4 linked regions of the Homo sapiens genome follow. Each later gene encodes a partner of the first gene's protein in a complex. Each region holds a gene or a part of one and is shown in the gene's direction. Other genes may lie near its edges. The genes, in order: UBTF, TAF1C, POLR1B and TAF1A.

Region 1 (5,164 bases):
ACAAATTCTTCCAAGAAGATGAAATTCCAGGGAGAACCCAAGAAGCCTCCCATGTGAGCCTGGGGGTTGGAGTCTGCCCTGGAGGTCGGGGAGGGTCAGGGCTGGATGGCTGCTTTGTTGGGGTCCTGACCCTCCTTCTACCAACCCACCTCCCAGGAACGGTTACCAGAAGTTCTCCCAGGAGCTGCTGTCCAATGGGGAGCTGAACCACCTGCCGCTGAAGGAGCGCATGGTGGAGATCGGCAGTCGCTGGCAGCGCATCTCCCAGAGCCAGAAGGAGCACTACAAAAAGCTGGCCGAGGAGCAGCAAAAGCAGTACAAGGTGCACCTGGACCTCTGGGTTAAGGTGAGAGGGCAAGGGACCCTTGGAAGGAACAGAGAGGCATCAGACTAAGCCAGCACCATCCTAGCCTGGCCCATCCACCCACTTGTGCTGGCTGGTCTCATTCATGATTTCATTCCATGCCCTCGCAATCCTTCAGGATAACGGTCACTATCACCCTTTTATTTTTATTTTTTTTTTTATTTTTTGAGACAGTCTTGCTCTCCTGCCCAGGCTGGAGTACAGTGGTGTAGTCTCGGCTCACTGCAACCTCCACCTCCCAGGTTCAAGCGATTCTCCTTCCACAGCCTCCAGAGTAGCTGGGGCTACAGACATGTACCACCACACCTGGCTAATTTTTGTATTTTTAGTAGAGATGGGCAGGCTGGTCTCGAACTCCTGACCTCATGTGATCCGCCCACCTCGGCCTCCCAAAGCACTGGGACTACAGGCTTGAGCCACCGTCCGCAGCCACTATCACCCTTTTAAAAATAAGGAAACCAAGGCTCAGAGAGGTTAAGTAACTTGCCCAAGGTCACACAGTAAGTAGAAGAATCCAAATCAGACTGCCTTTTCCTCCCCCATCTGGGACCACGGGACCTCTCCTAGACTCCTGGCCTTTGTGCTTCCCCTCTGTGCTTTGGTTGAGTAGTCAGATCTGTAAAGTGGAGAGAATCACCTGTGTCCTTCCCACTCACCAAGGCAGGTTGGCCAAGGACCCAGGAAGACTGTGGGGATTTGCTGTTTCAGGAGTTTGGTGAGCCCCACTGCCTCATCGATGGCTCAAGGGTTTGGTGTTGGGGTGTGGTTGATGATGCCAGGCTGACTCATCACGGGGGCACTTCTTTGGAGTGAGGAAGACTCTGATAGGAGCTTCCATTTGCGAAAAGCAACAGGGAAAATGTGAAAACCAATAGTCTTAGTGGTTTAGAGAAGGACTCTGGGTATCAGAAGCAGAAATACTAGGGTTTGGGCCAGCGCAGTGGCTCACGCCTGTAATCCTAGCACTTTGGGAGCCCAAGGTATGAAGGATCACTTGAGGCCAGGAGTTCAAGACCATCCTGGGCAACATAGTGAGATTGCTGTCTCTACAAAAAATTATAAGGTAGCATGGTGTGGTGGCACATGCCTGTAGTCCCAGCTACTCTGGAGGCTGAGTTGGAAGGATCACTTGAGCCTGGGAAGGTCAAGGCTGCAGTGAGCTGAGATTGTGCCACTGCACTCCAGCCTGGGTGACAGAGCAAGACCCTGTTTCAAAAAAAAAAAAAAAAAAAAAAAAAAAATTAGAGCTGTGTTCTCAGATCCCAGGGGCTCTCTGCAGAGACCCAAAATCTAGGGAGCCTGGGAGGGGTAAGATGGGGTGATGATATATAAATGCTCAGCCCACTGCCTAGCACTGGGCCAGCATGCTCAGTCAGCAGTAGTTGGCTATGTTCCAACCCTTGCCGCTTCTGTCTCCCCCAGAGCCTGTCTCCCCAGGACCGTGCAGCATATAAAGAGTACATCTCCAATGTGAGTCTGGGAGCAGAGCAGCAGTGGGGTAGGGGTGGGGGAATTCAGGGGTGTCGAACTCATGGCTGCCACCTTTGTGTCCCCATCCTGCAGAAACGTAAGAGCATGACCAAGCTGCGAGGCCCAAACCCCAAATCCAGCCGGACTACTCTGCAGTCCAAGTCGGTAAGGAGCCCCTCCCAGATGCAGGGGCGTGGGGCGGGGGGCACTGCCTGGAATGGTTGGGCAGAGACCAGAGACCACTGATGTGCCTCCATCCCTCCAAGGAGTCCGAGGAGGATGATGAAGAGGATGAGGATGACGAGGACGAGGATGAAGAAGAGGAAGATGATGAGAATGGGGACTCCTCTGAAGATGGCGGCGACTCCTCTGAGTCCAGCAGCGAGGACGAGAGCGAGGATGGGGATGAGGTGGGGCAGACAGGGCACAGTGGGAGGGGAGGGGAGTCCTGCCAGGAGGGCCACCTGGTGACTCCACATCCTTTCTCACCCCCCAGAATGAAGAGGATGACGAGGACGAAGACGACGACGAGGATGACGATGAGGATGAAGATAATGAGTCCGAGGGCAGCAGCTCCAGCTCCTCCTCCTCAGGGGACTCCTCAGACTCTGACTCCAACTGAGGCTCAGCCCCACCCCAGGGCAGCCAGGGAGAGCCCAGGAGCTCCCCTCCCCAACTGACCACCTTTGTTTCTCCCCCATGTTCTGTCCCTTGCCCCCCTGGCCTCCCCCACTTTCTTTCTTTCTTTAAAAAAAAAAAAAAATACGGTGGGGGTAGGGGGCTGGAGGAGCCCAGGCCAGGACTCTGCAGCCTCAGAGACATCAGCCCTTGGGGGTCCTCCTCCAGGGACAGCAACTATCAGACTAAGCCAGCACCGGACCAGCCTGGCCCACCCCACCCACTTCTGCACTTGCGGTTCCGGCATGGACAATGGACCGGAGAGTGGGGGTGGGGGGTCCCAAAGAGTTTGATGAGGCCCTCCACACCTGCGGCCCAATCCAAGGTGGGGTGGAAGCTTGGGGAAGACCCATTCCTTCCCAGAGGGGCCTGCCACCTGGACCCCTGCATTGGAACTGGAGGCAGGGAACATGGGGAGGAGGAGGGTCGGTGCCTTCAAGAAAACAGGCACTGCCCTGGTGGCCCTCTCCCCTGCCCCCTGCAGGAAGGAGCTGCCTGGACCCGTTCATGGGGGAGGGGGCAGAAGTGTTTTTTATATATGTGTATATATTTTTTTTTAAGCTCTGAGCTGTCAACGAGACGTTTCCTACCGATCTCGGCTGCCGTCTCTGTTGTCATTTCTGGGAGAGGGAGGGTTTAGGGGTAGATTTGGAACCTTTTAAAAATGGTCTTGATGTATGTGGAAGAGAGTATGTGTATGTGTGTTCCTGTACATAGCATGGGTGCAGCTGTGGATGTGTGCAAAAGAGTGTGAGTGTGTGTGTGTGTGTGTAAAGGGGTCTGTCCTAGAGCCCACATCAGTTTGTTGTGAATCTGGAAAAAGGGTCGGTGAGGGCCGGGAGATGTTGACCCTGGTGGGAGCAGGCTGAGGCTGCCCCGTTCTCCACATCCTCTGTTTTGCCCAGTCTCTGATTCCATTAGGGGGAGTGTGCTGAAGCCATTCTCGGATGCTTCCCAGACCAGGCTCCCTCTGCCAGAGTCACATGCATCCGAGCTGCTGGTCTCCATTGTCCAGCAGGAAGGCGGAAAGGCAGGCAAGATGGTGTGAAGCTTAAAGCTTGTATTTGATGGAAAAGGTCTCCCCTGTTCATCTGAGAGGCCAAGCCTGGCCACCCCAGGCTCAGAACCTGGGCTTCAAGAAATGTGCTGGGAGCTCCTAACTTACACATCCCTCCAGCCTTCCTTGAATCCTCCCACCACCCCCTATTTCCTTTAATTTCTCAGGTCTGCTCCCTCCTCCCCCAACCCCACAGCTGGGCAAGAAGTCTGCAAAAGCTGCATCTGCAGCTGTCTCTAACTCTTCCCAGCCATCTCCCGTATTTTTTGGTACCTTGATTCCTTGACTCTTAATAAGCCAAGCCACCTTATCTCTGTAGTTCTTATTTTTTTGTTGACTAAATTTGGGGGGTTCTTTTTTATGGTCATGTCACTGACCTATTAAATTGGGGCTTGGTGCTTTTCCACCTTCCCCCTCTGAATGAAAGCCAAGGAATGGGGGAAGAGCGGGAACTCTGCCGCGGAGGTGGAGCAAGAACGGTGAAGGGCCCTGGTCCCAGAGAGGCTGGTGGGTCCCTCTCCCAAAGGAAGGCAGACAGTCTCTGCTTTGCCTTGGACCTTGGTGCTGGGGGTGGGGAGGCCTGGGGGGGACACTCCCCACTCCCATTCCCCTTCCTTTGTCCTAATCCTGGAATTAAGTACAGGGGTTTATAGGTTCTATTTCTTCCCAAGAGCCCTGCAAAGAACCCCAGTTTCCTATTTGGATGCCCCTACACTGTTGTGTTTCAGTGGAATGTATTTTCATTTAAAAACAACTTTGAATGGGGCACTTTTTCTTTCCTGTTTTAAAAATTGAAAAATTCTTACAGTACAAACAGGACTGTCAGGGTGGGGGTGTTGGTGCTGTAAGAGGTCACTCTTGAGTGCATTTTGGCACTGGGATGGGATGGCTGGGGTGGGAAGACCCCCATCCCCACCCCCAACTTCTTTTCTAATATTTAAGGAGTGTTTTGTAGGATTCAACAACCACCACAACTTGAATTTGTATCATGGGAGGTGGGAGGGAGTGGCTTAGAGGTGTCTGCCTATGCTTAAAGCCAACTGTGGAAGTTTTGTTTTCCCTTTTTTGTATAATAAAGTGAAAAACAAAGGTTTGACTGCTGTCTGGTCACTGGAATCAATGAAGGTTCACAGGGGTGACCCAACAGGTTTGATCTATAAAAATGCTTGAAGCCAATTTGCCTTTTCTTCCTAGAACTATCTTCCTCTTCCCTAAAGATTCCATAGGCAACCTACCTTCACATTGTTCTGTGCTACTGTTCTTGCCCTTTTCTCAATTCCATTTGTTCACCTTGGGTTGTGAGACCACTAAAGATTCTGAGAAGTTGGAGAACAAATGCATTTTCACCCAAAGTACATGGTCTTGGGGAATTGGAGGTGATGAGCTACTAGGGTCAAGGGTTCGCCCTGGGCATGCAAGCCTTCCTAGTGTAGGGCTTATCGTGGGGAGTTGAGGGAGCACGCTCTCACTTTGAGCCTTCAGCTCCATCCCAGGTTAAAGGTTAAGGGTTAAGGATGACTTTCCTAGGACCATCTAGGCCTCTGATGGGAAGCAGGCTGGGCTGGGCTGAGATGACTCACTCTCTGAGATTAAGG
Region 2 (7,938 bases), on another chromosome or scaffold:
GCAACTTAAATTGCATGTAAGTGGCTCTAAAAACGTATACAGAAATACCAGGGGGCCTTAACCTCCCTGGAAGTCAGGTGGGAAGAATGTTCACCTGCCATGACTCTTTCACAGTTGAGCATCTGGTGTGGCTGGTGATCCTTGGAGATCGCTGCTCACAGCAGGGTCCACCCCAAGGTCCCAAGCTCAGGCCAGGTCCTGCTCCGGCGGTGTCTCTGAGCATAGGGACCAAGGTCCACCTTCCCCAGACCCCCTGCTCCCCACGTCCTGGGACCCAGCCCTCCGTGGCTCTGCCCTCTGGCACAGCCATGCCCCGGCCCGGCCTCACCTGGTGGCTGGTCCTCCCGGAAGAGCAGGAAGATGCCCAGGCTGGCCGCGTACTCCGTGAGCAAGGACACGGCCTGGCTGGCAGGTGGGTCTTTGAGCGGCAGGCTGAGCCCTGCTGGGGGCACAGGGACCCTCGGGGCCTTCCCCATCTGTTCCCCCAAGTTTTCCCACGCCCGGGCTGCCCCCAGTTCCCCGACTCCGGCCCCTGCCCCAGGCCCACTGTCCCTCAACACCGAGACCTGGGGCCACCCGCCCTCCGCGCGATACGTCGCGGGCGCGGGCGCGGGCCCCCAGGCACTTTGGGCCTGGGCGGGTAGCGGTCGCCAGGGGCGGGGCTGGGGGCTGATCTGCAACGATGCAGCCAGGCGGGGCTTCCTACGACTGCCGTCGTCGTCAGCGCCCTGAGAAGCCGAAGCCATGGCCGCCAACGAAGATCTGAGGCGCTAGGCCCTATCTCGCGCTGCTCTCGCCCTTTCACACGCGCAGGGCGGGTGCCTTCACGTGGGGAGCACGCGGACGAAGCGTGGTGAGCTCCACCCCTGCCATACGATGGCCAATGAGAGCCCTGAGATCTGTGATGGACAGTGCACCCTGCCAATGGGAAGGCCAGTCTCCCAACGACGGCGGCTTGGATGCTTATGGCTGAGGCCAAGGTCCCACTGCCTGGACGGAAGTTCCGGCTGAGACCAACGTCCCATGGCCTGGAGGGAAGTTCCGGTGGGTGGGTGAGGGGTTGCTCTAGCAGCTGCTTCTTTAACCGTGGGTGGTCGCGGAGCCTGCAAGGCGGGGGAGGAGCATCTGGGGGCGTCAGGTCCAGTTTCACACTCTAGCTCCTGCCCTAGGCCCCTAGGCACCTCCACATCACAGGCTGCTCAGCTGCTTCACTGGCTGAGCCTGGAGACTTCAACACAGGAATTAGGGGTTCACACTGTCAGCAGGATCATTGGATATAAAATTTCACTGCAGGCCTTTCTGAAGCCAAACATAAGTGTTCCCCAGCCAAGAATTAGCCATTTGATGCAAAATGTAGGTGGGCGTGGTGGCGCACACCTGTAGTCCCAGCTACTCAGGAGGCTGAGGCAGGAGAATCGCTTGAACCTGGGAGGAAGAGGCTGCAGTGAACTGAGATTGCGCCACTGCACTCCAGCCTGGGCAACAGAGCGAGACTCTGCCTCAAAAAATAAATAAATAATTTTTTTTAAGAAAATAGCCATTTGATACTCTGCCTTTTTCCCCCCTAAGAAGGGATTTTGAGTTAATTCATACAAATAAGACAAGATAACAATTGTTTAAAGTGAAGAGCTAGAGATCAAGAGACATAGGAAAAATAAGATAAAGACAGGGATGAAGACAATTTACACAAGGCTTACTGTGATGCAACGCGTATTTGCTTGAAGGAGGCTGCAAGTTTAACGGAGTCTTACAGTAGCCACTAACTTGGGAAAGCATGACCAGTGTCTGTAAGATTTGTCACAGTGCTTGCTGCTGCTGCTGCTGAAGCTGGGCCTGGCAGCTCTCTCCAGGATTGTGACAGTGAGGATGCTGGGGCATATGAGGACCAGGTGGTGGAGTCCTCCCAGAACCTTTGACTTGGAAGAAGCAGGTGTGGTGGGCTGGGTAGTCAGCCTCCCCAACATGTCAAGAATTGACATCAGGAAGAACAATTCCATTTTGTGTGTGTGTGCAGCCCAGAGAGTGGGATGAGGCCCAGGAGAGTGAAGGGACAGCACAGCAGATGTCCAGAAATGGACTGAGGGCTGCACATATCCACAGAGAGACTTCCACAAAGTCATCAAACCCAGTAACGCCCCAAACGCTCACCAACAGGAGGTTGCGTGAACAAATCAATGGTATATTCATACAATGGAACACGACTCACTAATTTAAAAAGGAAACAACAGCTGCGTACACAACACAGGTGAATCTATTAGGCACATGGCGTGGAAGAAGCCAGACACATCCTCTCCATGATTCCACTTATGTAAAGTTCTTGAACTGGCAAAACTAATCTGTGGTGATAAGAGTCCAAATAGTGGTTCCTTCTTGAAGGAAGTATTGACTGGGAAGTGGCACCAGGGAATTTTCTTTTTAGAAAAAAATTTTGTAGAGATGGGGGTTTTGCTCTGTTGACCAGTCTGGTCTTGAACTCCTGGACTCAAGCAACCCTCCCACCTCGGCCTCCCAAAGTGCTGGAATTATAGGCATGAGCCACTGTGCCTGGCTGGAACTTTCTTGAGTGATAGAAATGTTCTCTGTCTTGATCTGGGTGGTGTTCATGTGGGTTTCTATGTATGAATAAAAATTCAATGAGCTGTACATTTAAGACTCGTGTGCTTTACTGCATGTTGAGTATATGTCAGTTACAAAAGCAAATTGATAATGGCTTATTCAGAGAAAGGAGGAAAGGAAGAAATGGAACTGGCCTCGCAGTGCCAAAGCTGGATAGGCGTTTTACAAGGGTAATGTAGAATATTAGTGTGGTAGGCAAAATAATGGTTCCCCCAAAGATGTCTACAGCCTAATCCCCAGAACCTATGAGTATATTATTTGGCAAGGGGGCATTAAGGTTGCAGGTGGAAGTAAGGTTGCTAATCAGCTGCCTTTAAAATAGGGCTCTCACCTGTAACCCCAGCACTTTGGGAGGCCCAGGTGGGAAGGTAGCTTGAGCCCAGGAGTTAGAGACCAACTTGGGCAACATGATGAAATCCCATCTCTACAAAAACTACAAAAATTAGGCCGGGCGTGGTGGCTCATGCCTGTAATCCCAGCACTTTGGGAGGCCAAGGCGGGTGGATCACATGGTCAGGAGTTCAAGACCAGCCTGGCCAATATGGTGAAACCCCGTCCCTACTACAAATACAAAAATTAGCTGGGTGTGGTGGCAGGCACCTGTAGTCTCAGCTACTCGGGAGGCTGAGGCAGGAAAATCGTTTGAACCTGGAAGGTGGAGGTTGTAGTGAGCCAAGATCACGCCACTGCACTCCAGCCTGGGTGACAGAGTGAAACTCTGTCTCAAAATAAAAAAAAAAAAAGAAAATTAGCCAGGCATGGTGGTGCTTGCATGTAATCCCAGCTACTCGAGAGACTGAGGTGGGAGAATCATCTCAGCCTGGGAAGTTGAGGCTGCAATGAGCCATGATGGTACCACTGCACCCTAGCCTGGGCGACAGAGTGAGACCCTGTCTCAAAAAAATAAATAAAACAAATAAAATAGGGAGATTATCCTGGATTACCTGGGCGGGCCTACTATAATCACATGGGTCCTTACATGGGAAAGAGGGAGACAGAAGAGTAAAAACCAGAGAGATGGCCTCATGAGAAGAATCCGACTGGCATTGCTGGCTTTGAAGATGGAAAGGGGTCATGAGCCAAGGAATGCAGGCAGCTTCCAGAAGCCAGAAAAGACAAGATAGTGGACTCTTCCTTAGAGCCTCTCAAAAGGAACACAGCCCTGCTGGCACTTTTAGTCCAGGTAAAAACTTCCAGATAAAAACAATATAGGCCAGGCGTGGTGGCTCATCCTGTAATCCCAGCAATTTGGGAGGCCTAGGCAGGCGGATCACTTGAGGTCAGGAGTTCAAGACTCAGCCTGACCAACATGGTGAAACCCCGTCTCTACTAAAAATACAAAAATTAGCCGGGCATGGTGGCGCAGGCCTGTAATCCCAGCTACTCGGGAGGCTGAGGCAGAAGAATTGCTTGAACCCAAGAGGCGGAGGTTGCAGTGTGCCAAGATCGTGCCACTGCACTCTAGCCTCCATCTCAAAAAAATAAATAAAGACATAGATGACAGCTGAGAATTTGGAAATTGATTCTTTAAAGCAACGGTTCTCAAAGTATGGCCCCTGGACCAGCATCATCTGGGAACTTGCTAGAAATGCAGACTCTTGGGCCACATCCCAGATCTACTGAATCAGCAACTCGGGGGGCAGAGGTAGGGTGGAGCCTAGCAAACTTGTAACAAGCCCCCCAGGTGGTTCTAAGGCTCACTGAAGTTTGAGAAGTACTATGTTAGGATAACGGTAAGGTTCATGACTGGACAGTGGTTCTTAAAGCATGGCCCCCAGATAAGCAGTTTCAGCATCACCTGGGAACTTAGGCAAATCATCAGGTCCCACCCCAGACTCACCGAATTGGAGACTGTGTTTTAACTAGCCCCCCAGGTGCTACTGCTGACGCACGCTAGCTAGAGTTTGAAGACCACTGCCTAAAGCTCTCCCTGCCTGACCACCCCTGGAAAAGCTTCACTCTTAGTAGGTATTTGTACCCTTATTTGTAAAGCCCGCTTCTTGGGATTTAAGGACAATCAGTAGGATACCTACTGACCAATACAGGTCTGGCTTATAGTAGGTGTTCTGTGGGAGTTCGTTAAATGATTAATTTAATACAACTCTGAGGAAATTGGTGAAGTAGATGTGGGATTCGAACCTAAGTCCACCCGGCCTCCACTATTGGGACTCAAGGGAGCTTTATTTCCGCTGCCCACGCGCCGCCTGCACGCCCGTTCCCTCTCCTCCCGGGAGGGGGCGCGCCAGGACCCTAAGAGGCCTGGCTGGGAGGCGGGACTTCCTGCCTCCGCAGGAGGCACTTCCGGTCCAAACCGGAAGACCGTGGGTAGCTGCGGCGGGGCTGACCCGTCCCGAGTGCCAAAGCTGGGGTTCTACTTGAGATTTCCCTCGTGGTGCCAGGGTCCGGCGAGCATCACGCCGAGGCCCATTTTCCAGACGACCACGACGAGGCCGGGGTCACGTAAGTGCACGCATGCGCCCCCTCCGCGCGGACTGCGCGTGTTCGAGGAGCGGACCCGCAGATGTAGGAGGGGAGGGACGCCCCCAATCCCCAGTCCCCGCGGCAGGCTCACGTTTCGCAGTCCCCGGCCTGTCGTTATTGCGGATCCGACTGAGTTCTGTAGCCTTGGAGGTCTAAAGGGTCCTGGAGAGCCCGCAGCGAGGGCGGGAAGCCGGCCGGGGAAGTCGAGGCTGCCTTGTCTGAGGGCTTTTGTGGGGTCGTGCTCTCCACCAGCGCCCTCCGCCTGTCTAGGATCGTTTCAGGCTATGCGGTTCCAAGAGAAAATATTTTTGTTTCTATTTTATTTTTGAGATAGAACCTTGCTCTGTCACCCAGGCTGGAGTGCTGTGGCATGATCTTGGCTCACTGCAACCTCTGCCTCCCAGATTCAAGCGATTTTCGTGCCCAGCCTCCTCGGTAGTTGCGATTACAGGTGTACACCACCACGCCCGGCTAATTTTTGTATTTTTAGTATTGACAGGGTTTCACTGTATTGGCCGGACTGGTCTCAAACTTCTGGCCTCAGGTGATCCGCCCGCCTTGGCCTCCCAAAGTGCTGGGATTGCAGGCGGGAGCCACCGCACCCGGCCAAAGGGAAAAGATTTTTGTATAGCGAGACTCTAATGCTAGCGTTTGCATTTCGGTGCATGCGAGAGCACTGGTTCGGAGCTCTGCCTCTGAATCGGATGGGAATCAAGTCTTGGCTGTGGCAGCTAAGAGCTGTTGGACTAAAGTTCTTGCTGAGCCTTCGTTTCCTGAACTCTGTTAACAGGGACGGCGATAGAAGAGTGCAGCATTTAGCATGTGCCTGGCAGATAGATGCTGGCGCTTGGTCAGCGAGCGCTGCTGTTATTTTTGCCCCTGTTATTTTTGTTAATTAAAAAGGAGGGATGCTATGGCTGCTCATACTTCTAGAGGACTGTATTTACCAAAGCCTTGTGATGTAATTTTTTTTTTTCTTGAGATGGAGTTTCGCTCTTGTTGCCCAGGCTACAGTGCAATGGCGCGATCTCAGCTCACCGCAACCTCCGCCTCCCGGCTTCAAGGAATTCTCCTGCCTCAGCCTCCCGAGTAGCTGGGATTACAGGCATGCGTCACCACGCCCGGCTAATTTTGTATTTTTAGTAGAGACCGGGTTTCTCCACATTGGTCAGGCCAGTCTCGAACTCCCGACCTCAGGTGATCCGCCTGCCTCGGCCTCCCAAAGTACTAGGATTACCGGCGTGAGCCACCGCGCCCGGCCCCTTGTGATAGAAATTTATTTTTTTCAACCCCTAGTGCATTTTCTGGGAGGCACTGTGCTTGACAGTAGGAAGACGATGCTCAGATGCAGTCCCTGGCTGTGGAGTAACTTGAGCGTCTTGGGGGTGTAGTCTGTAAATGTATGATGACGGTACTTACGAGCCGGGAGAGAGGCTGCCCCTTGCCGTCTTTCTGACTCCATCTCCACCGCTCTCCACCTCGCTCACTCTGGCTGCCTCATTTTCTCACACACTTCACTGCTCTAGGATTTTCACAGTTGTTGACCGTTCGGCCTGGAACCCTCTTCCCAGTTGCGTACATGGTTCTCTCCTTCACTAGGTTCAGGCTGTGCTCAAACGCCACCTTCTCAACGAGGCTTTTCCTGGCTGGCTTTGCTGAAACCACGCCCTCAGCCCACTACCAGATCCCCTTCTCCTGGACGGGTGGTTGGCTTTAATACAGTTCTCACTACTGCTTGGCCTTGGGCTACATATTTGTTTTTTGTTATCTGCTTCCTCAAAGAACATATGCTTCCCGTAGTGCACTTTTCACTCCTCAGGAACTCTGGCGCCCCTTACCAGCTTCCAGTCTCTCGAGGTGGCCAGTGTGGTGCTTGGTCCTTGTTTCCAGGATGGACTTCCCCAGCTCCCTCCGCCCTGCATTGTTTCTGACCGGCCCCCTTGGTCTGAGCGACGTCCCTGACCTCTCTTTCATGTGCAGCTGGCGAGACGCACTGACTCTGCCAGAGGCCCAGCCCCAGAACTCAGAGGTGAGGATGCAGGCAGGGGGCCCTGGCAGCTCCAGGGACATCCCTTCCCTGGGTCCCCCGTCTCACATTCACATCAGTTGACAAGGCCACAGAGTGGTGGCATTCACACGAGTCTGCTGAGACACAGGCTCTGCCACCTCCTCTGGGGTACATGGGCTACCCTGCCATCCCTAGACGGATGCCCCCACTATGCCGGGTCCCTTATGAGACCGTGAGAATGCTGCCTGAATCAGTCGGTTGACCCCTCCCTTCCTGGAACGGAGAGCTGAGTTGAGCGAGAATAAACAAGTGAACTTTATCCAATGGATAAGGTGTTTACAAAATGTGATCAGAGCTTGGAATGAAAGCAGAAGGATGCTGAAACAGCATAGTAGGGTTGGGAGAGGGGAGGATAGACCTGCAGGGTTTCTGCTGCCTCTGGAGGGACACTGGCCCTTTGCTTGGAATCCTCAGCCGCCTAGTTCCCCTTGGAAACACCCTGTCTGGGAATGAAGCCTGGCAGAGGCAAGTGGGTGAGCAAATAAAAAGAGAGACAGTGGAGCAGAGGCTTGGGGAACGGGGGTCAGGGATGGCATCCTTACGAGGGAGGGTCTGGCGTCAAATTGGGGCTCCTCTGGGAGTCTGGTTTCCTAGCTCTTTTGTCCCCTGAATGTCTGGGCCGAAACATCCCAGGCCAGCCCAGCAAAGGGAGGTGGAGCCGCCTGCCGGGCTCCCAGAGTGACTGCAAGGTCTCCTGAATGGAAGTGAGGTTACGTGAGATGTGGACCAGCCACTGGTGGCATGAGGGGCTTCCTTCTTTGAGAGCCAGCACA
Region 3 (7,028 bases), on another chromosome or scaffold:
GCATAGCCACCAGTCACATGATAAGCACTTCAAATGTGGCCAGTGTAGCTCAAAAACTGAATGCTTAATTTTATTTAATTAAAGTTAAGTAAGCATGAGTTGGGGATCTTGGTTAATAGAATATTAAGTAGTATTACCAACTGAATTGTTTTAAGCTTTTTTTTTTTTCTGTTTTCACAGCCAGTGCATCTGTATCCACTTGAAATCCAATACTGAAAAGTTTTATATGCTTTGTCTCATGACGCGAAAGCTCTTTGCTTTAGCCAAAGGAGAGTGCATGGAGGACAATCCTGATAGTTTGGTGAACCAGGAAGTCCTCACACCGGGTCAGCTCTTCCTTATGTTCCTGAAGGTAAATGCATGCTATGTCCACCCTTGGCCAGTGGTACCACTTGTGGAATGGCGTGACTTTGTCCAGCAGCACTGTTTTCTGCATGTTTATAGTTTCTAGTTTTGGCATTTTGTGTGGTCTCTTTTTTGTTTGTTCATTTAGCAGTAAGGGGATCAGAAATCCTGGCTTACACCAGGTTTGGAAATTTGCTTAATATTTTTATGTAAAGATCACATCAAATCTTGGTCACAGTGTTAATGATAAAAAGCAAATGGCCTGTATTTATACATATGGTTGATCCTCATTATTTGTAGATTCTGTATTTGTGAATTCACTCACTGGCTAAAATTTATTTGTAACCCTAATGTCAGTGCTCAGTGCTTTCATGATTATTCACATACATGAGCAGAGCAGTGAAGAATTTGGGTCTCCTGAGGCAAATGTTACAGCTGAGGCGGGGCAGGGCGATGCTCTGCTTTCCGGTTTCAGCTCATACTATAAAGAGGGTCCTTTTTGAGGTGCATTTGGTGCTATGTTTTTCACATTGTCGTGCTTCTTATTGGTGACTTTTTTGTTTTTTTTTGAGACAGGGTCTCAGCCTCAACCTCCCAGGCTCAAGCAATCCTCCCACCTCAGCCTCCTGAGCAGCTGGGACTATAGACATTCACCACCACACCCGGCTAATTTTTAATTTTTTTTGTAGAAACAGGGTCCCACTATGTTGTACAGGCTGGTCTCAAACTCCTGGGCTCATGTGATCCTCCTGTTTCAGCCTCCCAAAGTGATAGGATTGGAGACATGAGCCACTGAGCCTGGCCAGTTTTTGCTGTTTATAATGGTCCCCAAGCATAGCACTGAAGCGCTGTCTAGTGTTCAGTGTTAATGAATTAACAAGGTATGTTAAATAAGGTGCCTTTCAACAAAAGCTGACATTAAACAAGATTGTATATTGATCCGTTGACCAGAATGTTATGACCAGAGACTTGCAGGAACCCAGCCCTGTATTTTTCCCCAGGAGTAGTGGTTTTATATGTGTTAATTCAGTGTTCATTAGAACATAGCTACTGTGAGTAGTGAAATTTGACTGTAGATGTATATAGAGAGAAAGTTGGCATGGCACAAAAATGATTTCATAAGAATATTGATTCAGTGGCATTTTATATTTTGCATCTTATCCTCAAAAAGATGTAATCTAAGAGTTAATATATTTTTAGTAGAGGTGGGGTTTCACCATTTCAGCCAGGCTGGTCTCGAACTCCTGACCTCAGGTGATCCACCTGCCTCAGCCTCCCAAAGTGCTGGGATTACAGGTGTGAGCCACTGTGCCTGGCTTCTAATTTATTTTATTTTATTTTGAGACAGAGTCTTGCTCTGTCTCCCAGGCTGGAGTGCAGTGCTACGATCTCAGCTCACTGCAACCTCCACCTCCCGGGTTCAAACAATTCTCCTGCCTCAGCCTCCCGGGTATCTAGGATTACAGGCGCGTGCCACCATGCCCGGCGAATTTTTTTATTTTTAGTAGAGACGGGATTTCACCATGTTGGCCAGGCTGGTCTCGAACTCCTGACCTCAAGTGAGCCACCCACCTTGGCCTCCCAAAGTGCTAGGATTACAGGCGTGAGCTACCACACCCGGCCTTCTAATTTCTTATCTAGGTAGTAATTCTTATTTACATTCTTCCCGAAAGGTAATAATCTTTGTTTCTGTTTGCTCTGTCCATAAAATTAGATTGAAAAATTTCAGCAGCCTACAATTTTCCTGACAAAAATTGAAAGCAGGCAGCGTAAGTTTTCTCTTATTAATTTAATGTTATTAAATTAACCTTTCAAGTAAAGGTTAATTTACATTTCCCATCTACTTAAAGTGAAGCATGGTGGGCTCATTGTATTCCACACTTATAAATGTGTCTTTATTCCACATCAATTCCTAATTAGGAAAAAAAAGAAAAGAAAAAGAAATGAGACCAGGAGTACAGTGGCTCATGCCTGTAATCCCAGCACTTTGGGAGGCTGAGGCAGAAGGGTAACTTGAGCCCAAGGAGTTTGAGACCAGCCTGGACAGCACAGAGAGATCGCTACAGAAATAATAAAAACTATTAGCAGTGGCTGGGTGTGGTGGCTCACGCCTATAATCCCAGCACTTTGAGATGCCAAGGTGGGTGGATCTTCTGATCTCAGGAGTTCAAGACTAGCCTGGGCAACATTGCAAAACCCTGTCTCTACAAAAAATATAAAAATTAGCTGGGCATGCTGGCATGCTGCAGCAATTCCAGCTACTCAGGAGGCTGAGGTAGGAGAGTTGCATGAGCCTGGGAGACGGAGGTTACAGTGAGTTGAGATCACGCCACTGCACTCCAGCCTGGGCGACAGAGCAAGACCCTGTCTCCAAAAAAAACCTGTTAGCTGGGCATGGTGGTACATGACTGTGGTCCCAGCCACTTGGGAGGCTGAGGTGGGATCCCTGAGCCCAGGAGGTCAAGGCTGCAATAAGGGGTGATTTTGCCACTGCACTCTAGCCTGGGCAAAAGAGCAAGACCTTATCTCAAAAAGAAAAAAGAAAAAAACACCTGGTGCGGTGGCTCACACCTGTAATCCCAGCACTTTGGGAGGCCGGGGTGGGAGGATCACTTGAGCCCAGGAGTTTGAGATCAATCTGGGCAAACAGCCCAGAGACAAAACTTCGTCTCTACAAATAATTTTAAAAAAATTTAGCCAGGCCTGGTGGGCCACACCTGTGGTCCCAGCTACTCAGCAGGCTGAGGTAAGAGGATTGCCTGAGCCCAGGCGGCGGAGGATGCAGTGTGCTGTGATCACGCCAGTGCACTCCAGCCTAAGTGACAGAGCAAGACCCTGTCTCAACAGAAAAAAGAAATGAGTCTTCTGTAGCAAGGCGTTACTAAGGTGACCTGTGTCAGCAACAAGAGAAACCAAGGGAAAATTGGGGCTTTTTCAGAGAATTCATTGCCGAGTATCTGATTTCCTTACCAGCTACGTTAAAGCTTTTAAACCTTTGAGTTTGGAGCATAAAAACAATCTTCAGAAGATACATAACCATGACATAAGATGAATTATAGACTGTTAAAAATTCACATTGTATTTACATTGAAATAAGCAATATAAAATTGAAAAATAGCAACCATATTTTCTGTATTATTGTAGATTAACCATAAAACACTTCAGTTAGCCTTTCTGGTTTTGATTTTAAACCCAAATAAGGAAGTAGACATAGTTATGAAAAAAAAGGGAGAAGAACACAAACAAATCAGTTGTCAAGATCCAGGGCTTCTTATTCCATCTTGACTGTGAAGATGAAGTGTTCAGTGTACACCTGATAAAAACATTTATGACACAGGAAGATGTAGGCTCAAGAAAGGAATCTAAACAGCAACCAGCAGAGGTGGAGCAGTGATGCCAGGCTCTTCTACTCAAACTTGATTCTCTAGTTTCACTTGATAAAGTCCAAACCTACATTAATACCCTTGTTGGGTGAGCTAACAGCTTCCTTCACTCCCTGGTAATTCCCTTATCTGTACATTACAGATTTTTAGCAGTGTACTTACAAATCCTACTAGTGTGTAGTCAGTTGTGAGATTCATTGTAACATTTTATAAAATATATTCCTTCTTCCCACACCTCTCCAAAATTTATTCCTTCCAAGTACTAAAAATTTAATATTACTGCACCACAGTGATATTAAATGCAGTGTCAGTGCCAGAGAATATGCAGAAATGAAATGTGTCACTTCCAGTGCTGTCTTCTGGAAGAATAGTTAGGTCTTCCAAGTGTGAGTGTTCAAACACTGATAGTTTGAAGAGGTGGATTATCAATAGTCAATGGCTAATGTGTTGACTCAGGGGCCTGCTGGAAAAGGTATACATGAGTGACCTATGTACATCTTCCACGTTTTCTTCCAAATATCAAATATAGGAGAGAACCTATCTCAAACATTCTCTTAGGTATTTTCAGTGGTTTCTGAACCACCCATAGAAAGCGCTGATGGTGTATAGTCTTTTTTTCTTTTATTTTTAGTTGACATGTAATAACTGTACATATTTATCGGGTATACAGTGATTTTTCCATATATGTCAATAATGTATAATGATCAAATCAGAGTAATTAACACATTCATCACCTCAAACATGTATCATTTTTTTGTGTTGTGAACATTCGAAATCCCCTCTTCTAGCTTTTTGAAAATATACAATAAGGCTGGGTGTGGTGGCTCACGCCTGTAATCCCAGCACTTTGGAAGCTGAGGCAAGAGGATTGCTTGAGCCCAGGAGTTTGAGACCAGCCTAGGCAACAAAGTGAGACCCCCATCTCTACAAAAAAAATTTAAAAATTAGCCAGGCATGGTGGCACATACCTATGGTCCCACCTACTTAGGAGGTTAAGGCAGGAGAATCCCTTGAACCCAGGAGGTTGAGGCTGCAGTGAAAAAATATACAACAAATATAGTTAACTGTATTCAACCTACATTGCTGCAGAATACCAGAACTCATTCCTCCAGTCTAGCTGTAATTTTGGAATTGCAGGCTGCTTTAGGCTTTTCACTTAGTGTTGGCAGCATAGATTAAGATGGACTGTGTAGTTCGTGTGATTGGTTTTAGATGTATAACAAGTATAATGGGTGAAGGAGGGCATCACATTGAAGAGCTATCCTTTCTGCACCTGAAAAGCCCTCTTTCAGGTTTTTGGTTTTGATGTATGTTAGTAGACGTTTGTTAAAGATCGTACAGATTACATGGGAATAAATATGAAGTTTGTGATAATTGAAACACATACTATTTTATTTTATTGAGAATAGGGTCTTGCCCTGTTTCCCAGGCTGGAGTGCAGTGGCACAGTCATGGCTCACTGAAGCCTTAGGCTCCTGGACTCAAGCGATCCTTCCGCCTCAGCCTCCCAAGTAGCTGGAACTACAGGCACGCCCCACCCCCTCACCCCACCCCCTCTGGCTAATTTTTTTGTAGACAGGGTTTTGTTTCACCATTTTGCCCAGTCTCATGTTGAACTCTTGGTCTCAAGCGATCCACCCAATCCTGGGATTATAGATGTGAGCCACCACACCTGGCTCACATACTATTTTATATTAATTTTTTTTCCTTATTTCAGGAAAAACTGGAAGGTTGGTTAGTGTCTATTAAAATAGCTTTTGATAAGAAGGCTCAGAAGACCAGTGTTTCCATGAACACTGACAATTTGATGAGGATTTTTACAATGGGCATAGACCTTACAAAACCATTTGAATACCTTTTTGCTACTGGGAATCTGCGTTCTAAAACAGGTAAAATTAAATCGATCGTTTTAGTTATGTTTTTCAAATTAGTTGCTTAGTGTAGATTTGCCTGTCCCTGAGAGTTCTTTTTAAAAGCAAACCCCACGAAAAAAGTAAATTTCTCATAACTATGACTTCGACAACTATTGGTCTAAAGGGCTTTAGACAAGGTGTCTGTATAGCTAAAATTTAATTCAGATAACTGAATACATTTTCTCTGCTTCCTTCTAGAAAATGAAAGGCCACTTAGACCTCTGAGGAAGGCTTACCTAACAGGAACTCTAGATGGGTTGCTGTACATGCCCATCTCTAAACCATTTGCCTTGCCTCAGAGTGACCTGAGAGGCCAGGTGTGGTGGCTCATGCCTGTAATCCCAACACTTTGGGAGACCAAGGTAGGAGGGTCACTTGATCCTAGGAGGTCAAGGCTGCAGTGAGCTGTGATTGCACCACTGTACTCCAGCCTGGTGACAGAGTGAGACCCTGTCTCAACAAAAAAGAGAATGACCCTAGAAACTTAAAAAGTGGTAATTGGGAATTCAGAATTTTTTTTTTTTCTTTTTTGAGTCAGGGTCTCACTCTGTCACCCAGTCTAAAGTGCAGTGGCAGGATCATGGCTCACTGCAGCCTTGACTTCCCAGGCTCAGGTGATCCTCCGACGTCAGCCCCACGAGTAGCTGTGACTACAGGCATAAGCCACAACACCTGGCTAATTTTTGTATTTTTTGTAGAGATGGGGTTTCGCTATGCTGCTGAGGCTGGTCTGGAACTCTTGAGCTCTGGTGAACCACCCACCTTGGCCTCCCAAAGTGCTGGGATTATAGCATGAACCACTGTGCCCCGCCTTTTTTTTTTTTTTTTAAACCCATGTTACTGTTGCCGATTCTTTCATTAGCCTGCTTTCTTGCTTGTCTATTATCTGACTCTCTCAGATGAATTTAACTACTTGCTATTTTATTAACTCATTTAATGTTCACCCACAAAGGAGGTCATAGAGGAGACAGGGAACTAGTTGGGGCTAATACAGTTTGTGAAATCTGGGGATTATTTTACATATTTTTTTGTGAACTCTTTACACTCATCAGAGCTAGGAGAATAAATGTTGTAATAATTCATTCTATGATCTGTAGAGTGCTCTGAGGTTTTGTCGTCATAAAGCCTCAACAATTTCCATTTTTCAAAAGATTGGCCCATTTTTGAATGACTTTTGTTTTATTAAGGTCTTGGCCTCCTACAAGATTCTGGACTTTGTGTTGTGGCTGACAAGCTGAACTTCATACGCTACCTCTCCCATTTCCGCTGCGTGCACAGAGGGGCTGATTTTGCCAAGATGAGGACCACCACAGTACGCAGGCTGCTGCCAGAGTCCTGGGGCTTCCTTTGTCCCGTGCATACCCCAGACGGGGAGCCCTGTGGCCTG
Region 4 (7,028 bases), on another chromosome or scaffold:
TGTTGTAATCAGGAAAACAATATCTTAGACAGAAATTGGTTAAGGCAAAAATTTTACATTTTGGCAGTAATTTCTGCTTTGACAGATTATTTGGAAGCTCGGAAGTGAAATTCTATTTTATCATCCCAAAAGCAACATGGAGAGTTTCAATACTTTTGCTAACCGGATGAAAAATATTGGCGTCATGAATTATTTAAAGGTGAGAATATGGGCTTTGTGAATTTACACTTGCAGTATTCTTTTTTTTTTCTAATTGCTTGTGTCAGTGATAAGGTAGTTAACCTAAAAAATGTGGGACAAGGATAAGACATTCTGGATAAATAAGAGAAACTGAAAGAAAAGAGCGTTATGAGAACCATTTACTTCTTGATTTTCAGGCGCCTCCTGTGTTCTCTGACTAAAAATTCCTTTTCTTTGTATATTTCTTCTGGCTGCCAAAACCAGTTATTCAGAGATTGCAGTGGTATGATGATGGGCCAGATTCTAAAATGTTTGCTGAAGTCACTTGAGCTTAGAGTTGGTGTTTAGAAAAGGAAAGAGCTAAACAAGTTGGGAATTTAAATACGTGAAAATATTTTAATACTTCTAATGTTTAGGTGGAATCTTCACCTCCAAGTTCATATATCCTTTTGTAAAAGTCTTATCCAAAAAGATTGAGACATTTTCAAAATATTGTATCTCCCTCTCTATGTTTTTGTCTCAAAGAGCACTTTTTCAATACAGGTTTGTAAATGCTTTGCTTTAAAAAAATGTTTTGAGTGTCTATTTGTGTGCCAGATGCTCTTACGATTTTGTTCTCTGGTAGACCAGGTATACTGTGAGTGGAAATTAAATGGGGGCAGTTTACGGTTCTACTTAAGAAAAAGCTTTCTAACTAAACAATTGGAAATGGGAATGGCCTACCCTGATGTGTGCTCTGCGTCTCTTTTTTCAGGTCTAAACTGGATAGCCATTTAATTAGGGAGGGAGTGTGAAGAGTAAACTGTTGGTTAGGTCCCTTTTGGCTCATAGAATCTACTCAGTTGAAGTAAAGAAACTGAAAGGGAACCTCATTTCTCAATAAGAGTCTGAGAGTGATAATTAGGATAGATAATACAATTTTTTTTGTTGTTAATAATTTTAAAAACACTTATTGCCGCTTACCAGGCAATATGCTAGACATGGTTCTTATAGTAGAGGAAGATCATGTAAATGGAATGAAGTGTTATGGGTACCATAGTAGAAATGTAACAAATGGTGAGAAGATAAAGGAGAAAATGGCCAGTTCTCTGGAACTAGAGAGGGTTGGGATTTAATGGGTAGGGGAATCAGGAAAAGAATGAAAGTGATACTTGAGATAAGTTTGCAAAAGCAATTGGCCATTCACTAGGCAGATTAGGGGAAAGGGCAGCCCTGCATGGCGGGGGTTATAAAGAGTTTAAAAGCCCTACATCCAATAATTTAGTTACTCTAAAAATCACTTGGGTAGAAGTTGGGGGAAGTAGGCTGGGCCCTGTGTGCCATACCCAGGGAACTTGGATTTTAATTCTGTAGTCAGTGGGAGCCATTGAAGGAGTTTATGCAAATGACTAACAAGATGAAATTTCTTTGGTAGCCACTTGAAAGATGGATTGTAGGGAGGCAGGAATGGAGAGGCCAGTTGACAACTTATTGCAGTACTTTGGCTCTACCCATATGATTAATTGTAGTTCTCATTATTCTCCTCTTTAATGTCTTCCCTTTTTGTAATACTCATTCTTTGTATAATTTTTCTTCCTGCTTCTCCTGTATCAGGGATACACTTTCCTCTCCATCTGAACTGAAGCCATTCTTCAGCATCCCTTATTAAGATATTTTCTCTAAGCTTATATAACATGTATAAAATAGTAATATTTGTTGAATGTCTGCTATGAGCCAAACTATTAGGTGATTTGCAAGTATTATCTCATTTAATCTTGAAAACACCCTTCTGAAGGGGCAGTAATGTTCCGTAAAACAAATGAGACTCACAAAGAGTGAATAATTTACCCAGGTTTATTTAGTTTTTAAGTGGTGTATGAACCAAGACACTCATCTTCAAAACCTCTTTTTTCCCCACTATATCACACTGTCTTTTGTTTGTAAGTTTACATAATTTAGCTCATATTTACATAGTGTTAATTGTTTCCTATGTCTTACTTCTTTGCCAGATTGTACCCAACATCAAAATTTTCCATGTCAAGTTATTTGTATCCTACCAAGGTCTTTGCCCAGCATGTATTATATATTTACTGAGCTTTTTGACTAATGGTTATCTAATGGCTTAAATGGCGGTGTACCCTTATTATTTTTGCAGATCTCCTTACAACATGCATTATACCTTCTGCATCATGGAATGCTTAAAGATGCTAAGAGAAATCTGAGTGAGGCAGAGACATGGAGACATGGTGAAAATACGTCTTCCCGGGAAATATTAATCAACCTTATTCAGGCCTATAAAGGGCTTTTACAGTATTATACCTGGTCTGAAAAGAAGATGGAATTGTCAAAGCTTGGTAAGTGAATACAGGTAAACTTTTTCTTATGATGAGACTGAGGGGCAGAGGGATCTTAAGGAGTAATCTAGTAATTTCCCTATTGACTTCATCCAGATATTATGGAGAACAGACTTTTTATGGATTTAAAATTCTTGATCCTTTATAATATTTCTGATATATAAAAAGCTTCAATCATAAATTAGATGGTTCATAATTAAGTTCATGATCATTTTAGGTTCATTGCTGTTTTGAATGTGATTTAGTCCAGGATAAACACAGCCAGACACAGCAGTGGAGACAGGTTTGATTCAGTAACTACTGACAGGAGGAAGAGCTAAACTCCATTCCAATTTCTATGGAGGTGACTTGGGGTTGTAAAGGGTGGGGGTGGGGAGCTTAAAAAGCAGAAGGCAGAACCACCAGTAAATTCTTCTGGAGTTTTCCCAGGCAAACATTTCAAGAGGGGCTGGGGTCATCCTGGGGATGTGGCCTTGAGCTGTTAGAAACTATGTTAGTGTTCTAGAAACTATGTTCAAGTATTTATTGGCCAAGTTTGAGGCCTAGTCCAGAAGAGAGCTCAGAGGAGCCTGGCTGGAGTTTGGTCAAGAAGAAAGTCTTTGCCAATTTCTAAGAAAGGCTACAGATTTTCTTCAGCAGTCATTATTACATATAATAAACATTTCTTCCTGTGTGCCTAGAATGGAGTTTAATTTACTTTGTAATGTTATTTCTCAGAATAATATGTTTAAAGAATAGGTCAAGATGGTCATTTCATTTTTGTGTAAAGGTTATAATGGACAATTTTCTTGATTTATTGACTATACCAGAAGTTGACCATTCAGTTCTCAAACTGATTCCCCTTCTCTTAACCTTCAATGGTGTTATCATCTTCATTTATGCCCAGATTTGCATTCACTGGAACTGTATGATTCTTTGCAATTCGCTTGCCTTGTATAGTTTCTCCGTAGGGGATAATCCTCGAGATTAACCTAATCTCTATGATTAACCCCTTTCTGTTTTCATCCTCCTCCATATCTTAGTCCTACTATTTATCACTTCTTATGTGGTAAGCAGTATTTCCTTATTATCCTTATGTGATAAGTGGTATTTCCTTGGTCTCTGGGCATGTAGTTTCACTAATTTCGATTCCCTTCCCTCTTCTTTCAAGATACTCTGAAATGCTCTCTTCATCATGATAATCTTGTGAGGCCTTTGTAGAGTCTCCTCTTCTAGAATGCTCTCTATTCTTCAAGACTCATTGGATCGCTGTCCCAAACCCTCATTCTTACACCTTAAACTTAATATATCAGCTGCATGTTCAGCCTGAATCATTTGGCTATTCATCTCTTGCTTTCTAATTGTGCTAAGTTTTTTCATGTGTATTTTATTAGTCCAGATATCTTCCCGTTTAGACTAATCAATGTTTGATGTAATATTCCTCTATTTCTTTTGTTAGTCTTGTCATATTTTCTGGTGTAATAGTTCTTTTTCAAAACTTACTCATTGATTAGGTTAGTTTTAAAGTCAGTATTTACTTTTCTTCTTATACATGGTTAGGTAAAACTCAAGCAAATATCTGATGATTAAAGCTGTTGGAACATCGCATTTGTAATGTTACTCTTGTGGATAGATGGTTCAGTACCTTTCCGTAGCTGACAGTTCTGTAGCAACAATAGATGATGATGGGATAATATGTAGAGCTCTTAGATGATCATTCACCTCAAGTGTCTATTTAACGAGAAAAAAAGTTAGGACTAGTTCTTTATAACCAAACTCATGGGCACTTACCATGTGAACTTGTACTTGGAGTCAGCTTGGGACTTTCTTGCTGTTATGTGGCTCTGTCTTGGTTGGGATTGATGCACTTGGTGACTAGGAACCTCCTTCTATAATAAATTCAAACCCAATTTATACTCAGGGATCTGTCTCTTTCTCTTTGAGGCAGAGTCTTGCTGTCTCAGTCTGGAGTCTCTTGCTGTCAGGCTGGAGTGCAGTGGTGTGATCACGGCTCATTGCAGCCTCGACCTCCTGGGCTCAAGTGATCCTCCCACCTCAGCCTCCCAAGGACTTGGGACTACAGGTGTGCACCATCAATTTTTTTTTTTGTGAAGATGGGGTCTTACTGTGTTGCTTAGGCTGGTCTTGAACCCCTGGGCTCAAGCAATCCTCCTGCCTCAGCCTTCCAAACTGCTAGGATTACAGGCGTGAACCACCATGCCCAGCCCTTTTTTTAAAAAAAATTTTTTTCCATATAATGTCTTACCTACTTTCCTATCACCTCATTTCTAAGTTCATATTGATATGTATTTAACTGATCCACTGGGAAAAAGATACCAGTGCCTCTGTTTGGTTTGCAGTATCTTGTGCTTCTAATAGCTATTTTTGAAAGACTTGAGTAACTTTCTTTGTAAACCTTTAAGATTGAGAAATAGATACAGAAAAAGCATATAAAACAAATGTGAGATATAATGAATAAATTTAAAATGGACATTCACATAACCACCACCCAGATTAAGAAACACAAAATACTGTCACCCTAACCTAAAATTCTCCCTGTGTGCCTTCCTGACTGCATTTCCTCCCATTCTCTCTCAAGAAAATCCCTGTCCTGACTTATGTTAATCACTCACTGGTTTTTCTTTATACTCTTTCCACTCATGTATACATTTGTAAACAATGTGATTTAGTTTTGCCTATATCTGAATGCTGTATTTGGAGTTGTACTGTATATATTCTTTTAGGCCTTGCATATTTTGTTCAAAATCAGTTTTAAGATAATACATGTTATTGGATGTAGCTCTAATTTATTCATTTTTTATGGTTATAAAATATTTTATGATAGTCACACTATTCCTTCTATTACTGATGGCCATTTAGGTTACTATTTTGGGCTATTATAAATAATTCTGCTTTGAAATGAACCCCTATTAATTTCTGTATACCGGTGCACATAAGTATGCATTTCTAGGAGTAGAATTGTCATAGAATATGTTTTGTGCGTCTTTAACTTTGGTACATAATATACTAAACTCTTTCCAAAGAGGTTACCAATTTGTACTTTACCGACAATCTGATTAGAGTTTTCTTTTGTTTGTATTCTCCTCAACATTTGTTATTGTCAGAGTTTTCATATCAGCCAATTTGTTGGGTGTAGTGATCTCTCATGGTTTTTTTTCTTTATAGCTTTATTGAGAATTAAGATATAATTCACATACCATACAAATTCACCCACTTAAAATATACAACTCAGTGGTTTTTAGTATATTCATAGAGTTGTAACCATCAGTACAATATTAGAATATTTTCATGACCCTAAAAAGAAACCCTGTGCTCTCCCATTTCTCCCCACCCCTCCAGTCCTAGGCAACCACTAATCTGCTTTCTGCCTCTAGAGATTTGCCTGTTCTGGACATTTCATACAAATGGAATCATACAGTATGTGGTCTTCTTTTACTTAGCATAATTTTTTTTTTCCCTAACAGAAAATTTTGACAAAGAAAGCATAATGTTTTTAATGTTATAGCATGTAATGGTACTTCATTTCTATTACTGAATAGAATTCCATTGTTTGTATATACTATATCTTAGGTATCCATTCATCAGTTGATGAACAATTAGATTGTTTCTACTTTTGCCTATTTTGAATAACATTGCTGTGAACATTTATGTACAAGTTTTTGTATGGACATGTGTTTTTATTTCTCTTGGGTATATACCTAAGAGAGAAATTGCTGGGTCATATAACTCTAAGTTTATCCTTTTTAAGAACCACTGGACTGTTTTCCAAAGCAATTGCACTATTTTACATCCCCAGTAGCGGTGTATGAGGGTACAAATTTCTCCACATCCTCACCAACACTTGCCATTATCTGTCTTTTCTATTATAGTCATCCTGGTGGGTGTGAAATGGCATCTTGTAGTTTTGATTTGCATTTTCCTGGGTGTTAATGATGTTGAGCATCTTTTCATGTGCTTATGGGCCATTTGTATATCATTTTTGGAGAAATTTTCATTCAGATCTTTTGCTCATATTTTAATTACCTGCTTTTAGATTATTGAGTTTTGTAAGAGTACTTAGTTGTTCTAGACAGAATTCTCTTATCAGATATATCAGATTCATGACTTGGAAATATTTTCACCTTTTCTGTGTGTTTTCACTATCTTTTTATTTTATTTTACTATTATTATTTTTTGAGACGGAGTCTCACTCTGTCACCGAGGCAGGAGTGCAAGTGGCGCAATCTCAGCTCACTGCAACCTCTGGCTCCCAGGTTCAAGTGATTCTCCTGCCTCAGCCTCCCGAGTAGGTGGGATTAGAGGTGCCTGCCACCACGCCCAGCTAATTTTTGTGTTTTTAGTAGAAATGGGGTTTCACCATGTTGGCCAGGCTGGTCTCGAACTCCTGACCTCAAGTGATCTGCCCACCTCAGCCTCCCAAAGTGTTGGAATTACAGATGTGAGCCACTGTGCCTGGCCTTCTTTTCACTATCTTGATGGTGTCCTTTGAAGCATAAAAGTGTTTCATTTGATGAG

What was found.
Region 2: UBTF (region 1) and TAF1C share a complex: the UniProt entries of both Homo sapiens proteins name them as parts of the pol I pre-initiation complex.
Region 3: UBTF (region 1) and POLR1B share a complex: the UniProt entries of both Homo sapiens proteins name them as parts of the pol I pre-initiation complex.
Region 4: UBTF (region 1) and TAF1A share a complex: the UniProt entries of both Homo sapiens proteins name them as parts of the pol I pre-initiation complex.

What each region holds. Positions count from the first base shown.
Region 1 is NC_000017.11:44,204,534-44,209,697, reverse strand, and holds the end of UBTF (nucleolar transcription factor 1), read left to right. Parts: coding exon 1-53; intron 54-156; coding exon 157-346; intron 347-1,786; coding exon 1,787-1,834; intron 1,835-1,858; exon of another isoform or gene 1,859-1,927; coding exon 1,928-1,999; intron 2,000-2,100; coding exon 2,101-2,244; intron 2,245-2,330; coding exon 2,331-2,456; 3' UTR 2,457-4,658; downstream 4,659-5,164. UniProt on the Homo sapiens protein: Recognizes the ribosomal RNA gene promoter and activates transcription mediated by RNA polymerase I (Pol I) through cooperative interactions with the transcription factor SL1/TIF-IB complex.
Region 2 is NC_000016.10:84,184,039-84,191,976, reverse strand, and holds the start of TAF1C (TATA box-binding protein-associated factor RNA polymerase I subunit C), read left to right. Parts: upstream 1-4,919; 5' UTR 4,920-5,076; intron 5,077-6,393; exon of another isoform or gene 6,394-6,495; coding exon of another isoform or gene 6,496-6,497; intron 6,498-6,916; 5' UTR 6,917-6,987; coding exon of another isoform or gene 6,988-6,988; coding exon 6,989-7,126; intron 7,127-7,938. Other genes in the region: ADAD2 (adenosine deaminase domain-containing protein 2), read right to left, coding at 329-746. UniProt on the Homo sapiens protein: Component of the transcription factor SL1/TIF-IB complex, which is involved in the assembly of the PIC (pre-initiation complex) during RNA polymerase I-dependent transcription.
Region 3 is NC_000002.12:112,552,465-112,559,492, forward strand, and holds part of POLR1B (DNA-directed RNA polymerase I subunit RPA2), read left to right. Parts: intron 1-180; coding exon 181-352; intron 353-1,074; exon of another isoform or gene 1,075-1,226; intron 1,227-2,059; exon of another isoform or gene 2,060-2,115; intron 2,116-5,445; coding exon 5,446-5,617; intron 5,618-6,828; coding exon 6,829-7,028. UniProt on the Homo sapiens protein: Catalytic core component of RNA polymerase I (Pol I), a DNA-dependent RNA polymerase which synthesizes ribosomal RNA precursors using the four ribonucleoside triphosphates as substrates.
Region 4 is NC_000001.11:222,572,930-222,579,957, reverse strand, and holds part of TAF1A (TATA box-binding protein-associated factor RNA polymerase I subunit A), read left to right. Parts: intron 1-67; exon of another isoform or gene 68-85; coding exon 86-199; intron 200-2,314; coding exon 2,315-2,513; intron 2,514-7,028. UniProt on the Homo sapiens protein: Component of the transcription factor SL1/TIF-IB complex, which is involved in the assembly of the PIC (pre-initiation complex) during RNA polymerase I-dependent transcription.